4 separate regions of the Homo sapiens genome follow, and all the other regions are reported to be linked to region 3. The links are microRNA targets in miRTarBase. Many come from high-throughput screens and were not tested one by one. Region 3 holds a microRNA gene; each other region holds the end of a gene's coding sequence. Distances are from middle to middle.

Region 1 (3,000 bases), not on the chromosome of region 3:
GCTGCAGCTACAGCAGATGTCCCAAAGAGCTGGCTGTAGTGGATCTCAAAGTAGGCCAGGCCCTTCTTCTCATAGTGCCAGGGCCCCAGGAATGGCTTCTCACACTCAGGGAAAAGAGCTCTGCATGCCACCACTCTTTGCCCAGTGTATTCACTATGTGGCCTTTGATGGGCTGGCTGCAGTCCCTAGAAATGGGGACAGCATCTTGTCAATGCAGGGCAGGCAGTAGAGTTCACCCTTCAGCTCATGGGCCTCACCAGTCAGCTCCTTCCTACAGTGGATGCAGCTGAAGTGGCCTGGGTGACAGGCACTGTTCCTGAACATGAGGGACTGCTCATGAATGACCAAGTGGCACTGCTGAGGTGCCAGACACTTGTGCCAGTCCCTTGGCCTTCTCATGGTGTGGCAAGGCTGGCAGAGATGCCTATAAACCAGGGGTGGTACTATGCATCTTGTAGGGATGTGGCTGGTCAGCAGCTTCTCGTCAATACAGGCCACAGAGCCTGTAATTGTGCCTGGTTCTCAGCAAGTGGGTCTTTAAATAAATAAAGCTACTTACAGTGACCTGTTTGGAAAAACAATACAGCCAGTTTGAAGTATATATTAAATTCAAATTTTTTTAAAAAGAAAAGAAAGCTAATCTATTTGATCTATTTCACAATAACAACCTTCAACTTCTGAAAATAATAAAGTCACATTCAAGTAGACTTGTAAAACAATTTTAATGTTTACTCAAAATAAATGAGATGTCATCATTAGCCCTTATCTCTCACACTTGAAAAATGGAGACAGTTGTTCAGAATAGAAAGGGAAACAGCTATTAGAGTTTAAGCTCAAGTTTCAAGAAGAATTCAGATAAGGCAGGTAAAAACTCTAGATACTTTTCCACTGTCCAACATCACCAAATATTAATTTCCACATACCTCTTTATTTCATAAAAATATAAATATTTATTAGAAATAGTATGTTTAAGATTAGTTTTTCTTTCTAAATAACATGATTTCTTGCTTTAAAGGAAGATTCCCTAATAGTGCCACCTATTTCATAAACTGTCCTGCAGTTTTGTGCTTTTTAAAAATTCTAATTTACTTTGATTTAAAGAATAAATATCTCATACCCATGGTGAACTATTTTATCACCCCAAAATACAAATGATCCGTATTTTACAATGAAGAAATTCATAGCATCTACCACCACATCACTGTACTATGATTGGACTGACTGAAGTATGGGCCTGTGAATATAGATTGAAAAATAAAAAAGAAATGCTAAAAAAAAAAAACTTAGCTACATAATGTTTAATATCAAAACTCACCAGACAATCCAATTTTAAAGAAACTGATGGAAAAATGCTTCCCCTAACATGAACTATGGTTAGATAGCATTGTCTGTCAGGAAATTCACCAATTCAGTAGCTGATCTTTATGTGGAAACAAAAATAGGGCTTTGTCCTTATTCATAAGTACAGGGAAGAGACCACACCTTTACTTAAAAAAAGAAAAAAAAACCTAGATTAAATGTGACCAGGTAGCCCCCAAATGTATAGTAAACCACCAACTAGCCCCTGGCTCCATAATGGCCATATATTGTATTCTTCCAGTTATTTCTGACAACTCGGAGAAAAACATTACAACCTTAATAATAATTTAAAAAAATCTAAAAATCAAACAAAACAACAGGACCCTGTGGTGATGAATTTTGTTCGTACCAAAAGTATAGTCAGAAATTCTGAAAAAAGACAAAATGCTTGCATACAATGACAGTGCAATCAGCATCCAGGCCAGGTCCTGTGTACACAACCTCTCCAATGCAGTGTAAGTTTCCTCTTAGCAGCCACCAACAATGAGCTCAAACGTAGTGAATCTGTAATGTGGCTGGTTTTCTAACACTATAAATATTAATAAGAGTGGCTAGTGCTATTATTTACATCTGTTGGCCGAATATTACTCTTGAGAAATAAACACTGGACTTTTTCTTAACAAGTGGTTTCTCATTGACAAGTTCTGGTCATTAGTGAACTAGAATGAATCTTAGCTCACTTCCTTGTTTTGCAGGACATTTAACTCCTTGCTTCTTTTAAAAACTCCAGTGGTTTTTAGGCAGCCACTACAATAAATTCTCCCCCCTTTTTCAATTTACTTCCCTTTCTTTTCCCTAAGGTAGAACTTCTGTAAACCTAAAAACATATGGTAATTTAATATACAAGGTTTCTCAAAGTGCAAAATATGTTACAGATAGTTTCTTAGGCTTCATTTAAACACAGCATTTTATACAATACAGTACAGTTTGAGATTTCTGCTCATAAATTATACCACTTAACAGACAACTACTTTAAAAGGACTGACCACCTAAGTAACCCAATGTCTTCTTACACACGTTAATACAATGGAACTTTACAAGGTTTGTTCAGACCAAAATAAAGTTAATCTTACATTCAGTCACATATATACATATTTTTAAATGCTCCTTAAATGCCTAAGCATAGACAAATTTGCCTATCAATAGGCAAATTCTTATGAATTATCTTATAGTTCAGTTTTGGAGTTACACATAAAGATTGCATACAATATTAAAAAAATAATCTGGGGAGCAATTCATTTTATTTCCTACTTCAAAATCTGCTCATCCTGTAATTCTTTTGGAAGGGTTCTTGACCGTTGTAGAACCACATTAAGTTCTTCAATTACCCTTGATGGTAACTTATGATCAGAGTCCAAAGTAGCTTTGCTATTCCTGTCCTCAGTCTTCCTCAATGTCTTTAGGCCTTTATGGCCTTTTGGTTGCCCAAGTGGGGCTTCAGGCTCTGTGTCCTCCAGGCAGTTGAAACTCCGATGTTTTCGGGGTCGATTTCGAAGTTTATCGTCCTTGTGCTCCAGGCAGTGGGCCACCATGGAAGCTCTCTCCTTTAAGCTAGAGTCCACGGACTCTTTATCACACTTTTCACTGAGCCGCAGCCTTTCAAGTTCTGCTCTTGCACTCTAAAAATAAAATTAAATGTCT
Region 2 (3,154 bases), not on the chromosome of region 3:
CTTCTCACAGGACAGGGACACTGAACTGCGTCAGCCTCAGCTCACCCCTCCTTAGCCCAAGGTCTTCCTCATGCTTGCCACCTACTAGTCATACTGGCCTTTTAGATCCCTGAAGTGTTGTTCAAATCCCCGGATCATTGAGTCCCACCCCCAGCCCTCTGCTGCGGATCACTCCTTAACTTTTCCATTGGGGCTCAGGTATCACTACCTCAGGGAAGAGTCCTGCAGCCCCAGTCAAGACACCCCTCCCCCACCTCATGTCTTCACAGTTTTAAAGCCCATCTGGGAGCAGTTACCTGTGCCAGCCCCTCTACCTGTGTTAGCAGATCTGGCAACCCTGTAAGGGGGGTGCTAGATGGACCCGATTTGACAGATGGCAAGACTGAGGCCTGGAGAAGTGGAATCACTGGCCTGAGGTCACATGACTAGCACATGGCAAGGTCAGGATTCAAGCTAGGTAGTCAGTATCTCAGCCAGGCTGTCTCCTGGCTCCCTGAACATTATGGTGCTGACCACAAACTTTCCTGTCCACTTATACAAACTTCTAGTGAGTGTGTGTGATTACTAGCTTCATGAATACCTGACCCCTCCACTCTGAAGGAGGAACAGGCCTGTCTGGATCACTTCTCTGTCCCTAACTGAGCCCATCTCATTTAGGGAAACTACAGAGCACTGTTGCTTTTTTTTTTTTTAGATGGAGTCTCGTTCTGTCGTCCAGGCTGGAGTGCGGTGGCGTGATCTCAGCTCACTCCAGCCTCCACTTCCCAGGTTCAAGTGATTCTCCTGCCTCAGCCCCCCAAGTAACTGGGATTACAGGCATGCACCACCATGCCTGGCTAATTTTTTGTATTTTTAGTAGAGACGGGGCTTTGCCATGTTGGCCAGGCTGGTCTCGAACTCCTGACCTTGAGTAATCCACCCGCCTCGGCCTCCCAAAGTGCTGGGATTACAGGTGTGAGCCACTGAGCCCGGCCACAGTGCAGTATTTCTAACCAGTGATCAGGGTAAAGAGGATGCGTGTCCACCATCCCAGCCCTGATCAGCCTGTCTGTGCATCCCCCATCCCAGCCAGGGCTTGGAGCAGCCTTGCTCACCACTGTGTCCCCTGCATTGTAACACATCCAGGCACAAGAATAGCCGCCCAGTGACTGCCAAGTGAGTGAACCAGCCTGCTTGGAGCCTGCCTCTTTCCCAAACTGCTCATTATCCTGTTACCCCACCCAGCCCACGTGTCCAAATACACTCCAGATGCAAAATAAAAAGCTCTACGACATTGGCTCTGAATGTTCTGTTTATTGGGGTGTTGTCATGGGTAGGAGGCTCAGCAGAGCCATTCTGCCTCCTGCTTCCCAGTACTACCCCGTCCAGCAACTGCCTCTCGTATAAATAAGTATCAAGATGGTCAGTAGAAAAGGAGAGCATCTCCTCAGCCCTGGAAGACAGTGTGGGAGCTTCAGCTTAAGGAAGAGGTAGGTGCCTGTCCGCCAGCCCAGCCTCAAGGGCCAGGAAGACCTGGCTATGGGTGCTGGAGGGGCCGTTAGCCACACCCCAGGGTTCTACAGTCTTTGGTTTGGATCAGGCTGCAGGCCAGGGTCCTGGCTGGCAGCCCCACCCACCCTGCGCCTCTGACACACACCCAGCGCTTTTCCCTGCAGGGGCCCGGGATTGGATGGGGCCCTCCTGAGTGCAGCAGCTCTGAGTTGCAAGGGGAGGCCCACTTTCCCAGCCTCTGAACCTCCTTTCTGCCACTGCAGTTTGCTGGGAGAAAGGAGAGAGAAGCCTGGGGGTCAGGCAGGAGGTGTAAGTCCTGAGGCCGGATCTGGTGCACAGAGGAGCGAGGTACTGTCACAGTGCTGGCACAGAAGCTGGGATGTGGCTGTGGTTTGGGTCTGCAGGAGGTCAGCAGAGTCCGCCGAGGAACACGGAGGATCCCACAGGGCCACAGCAGGGCAGGATACCGCCCAGCGGTATCAGCCCTCAGGCCGCATCCAGTCCCATGGGGTCATGCCCTCTGAGCCTCTTGTCGCTCAGCACTCAAATGGCTCCCTGGTGAAGACATGGACTGTCACTCTCCCCAGATGGTCCAGCAGCGCCTGCATCTGTTCACCAATGATGCTGACCCTCTGAGGCGCCACAGATGAGCCTGACCCAGTCCCTGGCCTCAGCCAGCTGGCAGCCTGGAGGCTGACAGGGAGGCAGGTTAGAAGTGATTCATGTGTCCACAGGCACCCTGTCACACCATACCCTGTGACATGTGAACTGAATGCTCTCAGGGCAGCCCCTCAGAAGCCTTCCCGGCAGATCCGGGGACCCCGTTCTGGTTTTTCTGACTCACTGCCTCATCACCTTCCTTCCAGGTCCCCAAAACCCCTGCATCATGATGGGGCCAGGTGCTACCTGGTCTCCCAAGGCCCTTCAGACTTTTCCACGTTGGTCTCGTGTGGCACATGACACAATCTCTCCCGTCCCTGGAGGCCAGCTCCCCCGTGGCCAACCTCAGGCCTCCCATGGCATCTCAGGGCTCCTCCAGCCAGACTGGCGCCATCCAATTAACCTGATGGTGGCTGAGCAGCTCAGCTCTGTGCCAGCCCCTGCAGGAGGCAGATCATGTTGTCCAGGCCCCAGAGGTAGCCGTCCTCACGGTTGCCCTCAGCCCAGGGCAGCCTGTGGCTGAGCGTCTGGTGGTCGGGCAAGGCCACCGTCTTGCCGAAGTCTATCATCCAGACCTTGGCCAGGCCGGTGTGGTCGTGCACGAAGAGGAGGGAGCTGCCTACCACCTGCCGGGGTAGAGACGGGAGGTTAAGGGAGGAGCAGGCACTGGCCAAGGTCCCTTCCTGACAGGCAGCAGAGCAGGGTGATTGACAGCATGAACCCTGGAGCCTGGCTGCCTGATTCATATCCTGGCTGTGCCACCTCCTGTCTGTGCAGCCTTAGGCAGGTGTCTTAACCTCTCTGTGGTTCTGCGTCCTCATATACAAAGTGAGAGTAATACAGTTAGTCTCCCCAGTCCGTGGTTTCATTTTCTTTGGTTTTAGTTACTCTCAGTCAAGTGCGATCCAAAAATATTAAGTGGAAAATTCCAGAAACAAACAATGTGTAAGTTTTAAGTTGCACATTGGTTTAACTACTGTGATGAAATCTCGTGCCATCCCGC
Region 3 (3,154 bases):
GACATAATTGTTCATACCTGTCCTATCCCAAAGCTGATTTGTGAACAACAGTAAGAATGTATTGTGCCAACTCTGATACATGGTTTACTTTTTCCCAAACTAAGATGGAGGCTTTCTTAAGTGTCTAGAAAACTGAAATACTTGACCCTAGCAAGTATAATAAAGAGTATAATAACTTGGGGGAATCCAGAGTAATTGACTATCCAGCAATTGTACTATGCCTTTTCCTCCACTCTGAGAGTTTGAACAAAAGAATTCAATGACCTGATCTTTTTAACAAAATTAAAAATTTAAATGTCCTCATTTTTGAAAAACCTAAACTCAGTGCTCATAGGTTATTTGGCATAGAGCAAGAATTTGGTTAAAGAGGAATATGAAGTGGAACTTGGTTTTTAAGTCATACATAGCAGATGTTTAGGTGTGTGTTTTCCACACTTAAATGAGGCCACAGAATCTTAGAAAGACTTTAACTCACCCCCTACCCCCCTCCAGCAGGATCATTGCTCCCTTTGCTGGAGAGTTTGCTTTTTTCTTTTTAATGTTTGTCTTCCTTAATGTCAGCATGCCTGTTTTTCCAGCCACCCAAGCACTTTGTTTTATAAACATTCAGCTGTCAATATAAAAGACTATAAAAGAACACCTGCTCTCGTGGCTTTAAAGTGCTAAATGCTCCTCTCCCTTTTAGTCGTCAGATGTTTAAATGAATTTGTCTGCTCTCTGGATGTCATCTTTTTTCCTACAGGAAAAAAGTTTTGTGCCTCCAAGTTTTGTGATTAGTTTAGGCCTAGTTGAACTTAGGCCTACATCCAATCGATTGAATCCCATTGGGTAGCCTCTGAATGGTTAGTCTGTTATTTTTTATAGTATGAGTGAAGTCTTTTTATTATAATAATATTTATTGAAGGAATTCTGCATTCAGAAGGGTCTGTTGAACATTGAAGCATAAGTGGACAAAGCTGGGACTTGAGCCAGATCATTGTCCAGGTTCAGGGAGGCTCTGAAAATTAGCTAAGAGCTGGAGGTACCCTTCTGATGGTAAGCGGAAACAAATGAGTGACCAAAAAGAGTAAAGATGCATCATTGAGATTCATGTGGCTGTAGGTAACCACAGCAACAAGAAAAAAAAAATCTCAAACCTGCTTAATCAAGAAAGAGACTCCTAGCTCTGGAAGTAGAGCCAAAAGATGTACTTCAGGATTGATGAGTCCAGTGGCTCTGGTCCATTTCCCTGCCATTCCCTTGGCTTCAATTTACTCCCAGGGCTGGCAGTGACATGGGTCAAGGCTCACACCTTCACCTGGCAGCACCAGAGGGAAGGACCTTTTAAGAAGCCCTCAGCAACTTCTTGTGTTTCATTGGCCTAGAGTGAATCATACACTTATTGTTAAACCAGTCACTGCAAAGAACAGATTTACCTACACATCAGATAAACCTACTTTCAGAATTAAGATTAGGTCCTCTTCTCTAAGACCAGAGTTTCTCAAACTCAATATTATTGACATCATAGGCCAGATAATTCTTTGTTGTTGGGGGCTATTCTGTATCTTATAGGATGTTTAATAGCATCCTTCACTTCCGTGCACTAGATTCTAGGAGTTGCCCCTCCTTGGGACAACTAAAAATGCCTCCAGGCTTGGTGCAGTTGCTCATGCCTGTAATCCCAGCATTTGGGGAGGCCGAGGTTGGAGGATTGTTTGGGCCTAGGAGTTCGAGACCAGCCTAGGCAACATAGTAAGACTTCGTCTTCATAAAAACAAAAAATAAACAAAATTAGGTGGGCGTGGTGGTGTGCACCTGTGCTCCAGCTACTTCGGAGGCTGCTATGGGAGGATCGCTTGAGCCCAGGATGTTGGGGCTGCAGTGAGCTGAGATCGCACCACTGCACTCCAACTTAGGTGACAGAGCAAGACCGTGTCTCAAAAAAAAAAAAAGCCTCCAGACATTGCCAAATGTCTTTTTGGGGGCAAAACTCTTTCCCCACATCCCCCTGTTTGAGAACCATGGACCTAAACACATGAAGACACCTAAATAACACACCAGCTTAGGTAAGAAGTAGGGAATAGGAATATTCACCACACAAAAGTCTTGAAATAGGAAGAAAATAAGGAACCTTTGTAAGGTAGAGAGGCCACAGGGAATGATGGCATCACCCCCAATGTCATGACCACTGGTGAGTCAAGACCTAGATGCTTAAACCAAGAGCAGAAGACAAGCACTGCCCAAGGGAAGAACCAGTGACTTTTTTAGGCATCTCAAACAGAGCATAGAGAAATCAACCAGGAGCAAGAGACAGAGGCAAGTAAGGACCATATCTGGAAGCTAGTGACAGACATTCAGGGAAGAAACAAGGATACAGAAATGTCTTTCTCTCCCAAGGCCAGGATCAGCATGACCATGGGGCACAGGAAGTTCGATGGAGCTCAGAGTTACAGGAAATGCCTTGGGTGCTTATATCCAGAGAAAATGCTAGAAGCAGCTTCTTAAAGGGGAAGAGGATCCCACTAGACTTAATACGGTCTCTGCCCACATCATTGTGGAGCTAGATATCTGTGGAACTTAGCCTAAGGCTTTCACCTTAGACGTGACTGAAGTGGAAGAAATGGAATCAGGTCCCTACAGGTTGCCAAATTGGTGGCAGCTCTGTTGGAGTTAGGAAGGATGCACTCAGAAAATCTGTGCGCTACTCTGCATTTGTTTTTCTTTGATATGCCTGAAGTGATTTAATTAAGCTGTATGTGAAAATCTCCATGTTAGCTCCAACTATAATAAAAAGCAAAAAAATGTATTTCATACTTCATGGGATGAAGAAGAAGATTAGACCCTGGAGCCTGGGTGAGATGGAAATACTGTTGGCAAAGAGCTGCTCCAGGGGACTTGAAGGGACTTTTTTACTGTACTATGAATGACTGGACCCTGTATTGTCTAATTATCCTTAATACCAAAGACAGGGCATCTGTGAGAATCTGAGAGGTACTAAGAAAGGCTCTGTGCTCTAAAACCATTTCCTCCACTGGCTTTATCAGAGAGAAACCCCACATTTCACATCATTGTTAAAGAGCCTCTACAGAAATTCAGTTACCAGCTGAGAAAAATAATGAAGCCTCCCCAACAGGCCTCTGGGACCCCTTGAGTTGCCACCAGGAACTGGGGTACA
Region 4 (3,153 bases), 84 Mb from region 3:
AGAAGTGTTTCAGATTTCAGACTTTTTTTTGGATTTCGGATATTTACAGATACCTAATGAGGTATCTTGGGCATGGACCCAAGTCTAAACATGAAATTCATGTTTCATATATAACTACACACACTGCCTGAAGGTAATTTTATACAATATTTTTAGTAGTTTGTGCATGAAACAAAGTTTGTGTTAAGTACTTGTATGTGGAATTTTCTACTTGTAGTATCAGGTCAGCATTCAGAAAGTTTCAGATTTTGGAGCAATTTGGATTCTGGATTTTTGGATTAGGAATGCTCAACCTGTATTAGCTTCTTTTTAGTTAAGTTGACTATGTTTGAGATTCCCAGCTTTTCACAATGACAAATACCTCCCATTTAAAACTGCATGCAAATACATACTTTAAATTTATGCATTTGAAAAAAAAGCGACTTTCCTCTGTGCTGGGGTTGCTGTTGGCTCTAGTGCCAAATAATCAGAATTAATTCTTAGTAATTATGTTGCTTTGCTCACTTAGCATAATTTCTTCAATGGAGTACTGAATAGCTATATGCTGAATGGACGAAAAGCAGGGAAGGACGAGGAAAGGAGGAACAGAAGGAGTCTGTCCGAGGGTTGTGGTTACAATGCCATGGAGGAATAGGAGGAGTCTGTCCGAGGGTTGTGGTTACAATGCCATGGAGGAATAGGAGTCTGTCCGAGGGTTGTGGTTACAATGCCATGGAGGAATAGGAGGAGTCTGTCCGAGGGTTGTGGTTACAATGCCATGGAGGAATAGGAGGAGTCTGTCCGAGGGTTGTGGTTACAATGCCATGGAGGAATAGGAGGAGTCTGTCCGAGGGTTGTGGTTACAATGCCATGGAGGAGTAGGAGGAGTCTGTCCGAGGGTTGTGGTTACAATGCCATGGAGGAGTAGGAGGAGTCTGTCCGAGGGTTGTGGTTACAATGCCATGGAGGAGTAGGAGGAGTCTGTCCGAGGGTTGTGGTTACAATGCCATGGAGGAATAGGAGGAGTCTGTCCGAGGGTTGTGGTTACAATGCCATGGAGGAATAGGAGGAGTCTGTCCGAGGGTTGTGGTTAGAATGCCATAGGACTTCATTAGCTTGAGAGAAAGAATGGGCATCGCCTATCATTCATGAATATATTTTTTCTTTTTTCTTTTCATATTCTTGTTAAACCTCATCTAGCCATTAAAAATTACTAAATGGGGCTGGTAAGCTCTAGTACCAGTGTAAAATTGCTTCTGGGGACCGGAATCTATGTAGTAACAGGAGGAGTGTCAAATGCAGAAGGTAAAGGATATTTAAAGCGAAGGCAATCTTCCAGCTTCTGTGGACTGAGTCTTACTTAAAAGTGGTACAGTGGACGCTACTGGATAGGCTCTACACCAAACTTATACCTTGCTATTAGTACACAATTCAGACCATCCTTCTTAAACATAAAACCATTTTCAGATGTTAGAAATTCTTCTGCAACAATTTCTTAACCCATTTTAAAAAACTGCATACCCGTCTTTACCAGAATTTCTTTTTATCTTCATCGGTCACAAAGGAATAGTTGTGTTTTTGTTGTTTCACAGTTGTCTTAAGTATTATCTAAAACAATACAATTATTTTTTTTCTGTTTGCATGTCTTCCATGTTTTTACAGGGCAGAGTATTTTACTCTCTCGGCTTCCACATTTTTTCATGTCATTATTAAACTCATGGAGAATACAACCAGAAGCTGAGCTCTGAAGAGGGATGAATACAGAGGGCTACCAGCACAGTGATAGCAGTTCTGGAAGCTGGGCTCTGAGGAGGGATGAATAGAGGGCTACCAGCACACTGACAGCAGTTCTGCCGTAAACTGCCACATAGCTGGCAAAAAGGGCAAGCACGGTTAAATCATAAGATTTAATGAAACATTATTTAAAAAAATTCTTTAGAACAATGGGAACAGTGAATTAAGTTTACTATATACCAGCCATTAATTTTTTTTTTTTTAAGATACAGGGTCTAACTCTATCGTGCAGGCTGGAATACAGTGGTGCAATCATAGCTCACTGCAGCCTTGAACTCCTGGGCTCAAGCGATCCTCCTGCCTCAGCCTCCCAAGTAGCTGGAACCATGCCTGGCTGCCATTAAATTTAAAATAGGTATAATAATGATATGTAGAAATCCCAATTCCATTATTTTCTATAACTCAAAGGACAATTTATACTTTTGAGGACAAGATCTCCAATTCTAATCTTGCAATAATTGGCTGTTGTTTAAGTGACTGCAGTATATGGATGATGAACTTTCCCATTGTTGTATGTTAATAAAAATGTTGAGGTATGTAATCACTCTGAAAATTCCACCCATTATCCTATTTTCAAAGGAAAACTTTGGGAAGATTACAAACCCTGAAAAATGAAGACTTGGTGGCTTGCAGTTCCTTCTCCTTCTCCAAGATGAGGTGGTTGGGTTGCTGAAGAAGGTGGTTGGTTTGCTGATGAAGGTGGTTGGGTTGCAGATGAAGGTGTTGAGTTGCTGATGAAAGTGGTTGGGTTGCAGATGAAAGTGGTTGGTTTGCTGATGAGGTGGTTGGGTTGCTGATGAAGGTGGCTGGGTTGCTGATGAGGTGGTTGGGTTGCTGATGAAGGTGGCTGGGTTGCTGACGAGGTGGTTGGGTTGCTGACGAGGTGGTTGGGTTGCTGACGAGGTGGTTGGGTTGCTGATGAAGGTGGTTGGGTTGCTGATGAAGGTGGTTGGGTTGCTGATGAGGACAGGCTGCTGTGAAGTTCTGCTTCAAGGTCTGATGGTCGTCAATTCTTCCAAGCCAAAGCCAGGAATGCCACTTCTACCATCTGCATAGGTTGGCACTCACTCAAACTTTGTGCTTTGTTCACAAGAACATAACATAAAAGAATATCTTGAAGATCCACTTTTCCATTCCTAGTGCCATATACACAGAAGAAATCCAGCCAGCAGAGGAAACAGATTGCCTAGCAGAAGCCAGAGGGTGACCACCAGGCTCGAGGAACAGGAACAAAGATCTAGAGTTGAAAACAAAAAACTGACTTTCTATAAACAATTTTGGGATAAATCATACCAATTAAATATTGACAGATGAAGAGCAGTGATTATTAAAAAGTAAACAAGGACCACCTTGAGAGCTAAATCAAGAGCAAAACCCAGG

Evidence for each region. The annotated mature microRNA hsa-miR-4446-5p reads AUUUCCCUGCCAUUCCCUUGGC and lies in region 3 at 1,223-1,244, shown strand. An mRNA with a match to its seed (bases 2 to 7 or 8) in the 3' UTR can be bound and repressed. Matches are read on the target gene's strand: a 7mer-m8 pairs with bases 2 to 8, a 7mer-A1 pairs with bases 2 to 7 and ends in A, and an 8mer does both.
Region 1: miRTarBase lists ARAP2 as a target of hsa-miR-4446-5p. Seed matches in the 3' UTR shown: 8mer at 2,149-2,156.
Region 2: miRTarBase lists ITPKC as a target of hsa-miR-4446-5p. Seed matches in the 3' UTR shown: 8mer at 1,644-1,651.
Region 4: miRTarBase lists LMLN as a target of hsa-miR-4446-5p. The part of its 3' UTR that is shown has no 7-base or 8-base seed match.

The regions. Positions count from the first base shown.
Region 1 is chr4:36,065,301-36,068,300 of GRCh38, forward strand. ARAP2 (ArfGAP with RhoGAP domain, ankyrin repeat and PH domain 2) reads right to left here. Exons shown (of 33, transcript NM_015230.4): 33 at 704-2,978. The coding sequence ends at 2,607. It also overlaps the pseudogene LOC651644. Among named protein-coding and RNA genes, the nearest start is that of ARAP2, 180 kb to the right of the region's middle.
Region 2 is chr19:40,738,980-40,742,133 of GRCh38, reverse strand. ITPKC (inositol-trisphosphate 3-kinase C) reads right to left here. Exons shown (of 7, transcript NM_025194.3): 7 at 1,274-2,777. The coding sequence ends at 2,574. It overlaps ACTMAP (actin maturation protease), which reads left to right. Exons shown (of 6, transcript NM_198476.5): 6 at 1-1,273. Among named protein-coding and RNA genes, the nearest start is that of ACTMAP, 9.9 kb to the left of the region's middle.
Region 3 is chr3:113,593,661-113,596,814 of GRCh38, forward strand. It overlaps MIR4446 (microRNA 4446), which reads left to right and starts at 1,216; the gene lies at 1,216-1,282. The region is part of intron 10 of SIDT1 (SID1 transmembrane family member 1); the gene reads left to right.
Region 4 is chr3:198,038,424-198,041,576 of GRCh38, reverse strand. It overlaps LMLN (leishmanolysin like peptidase), which reads right to left. Exons shown (of 17, transcript NM_001136049.3): 17 at 1-3,010. The coding sequence ends at 2,910. LMLN-AS1 (LMLN antisense RNA 1) reads left to right here and starts at 2,110. Exons shown (of 4, transcript NR_046669.1): 1 at 2,110-2,128; 2 at 2,353-2,430; 3 at 2,719-2,829; 4 at 2,914-3,153.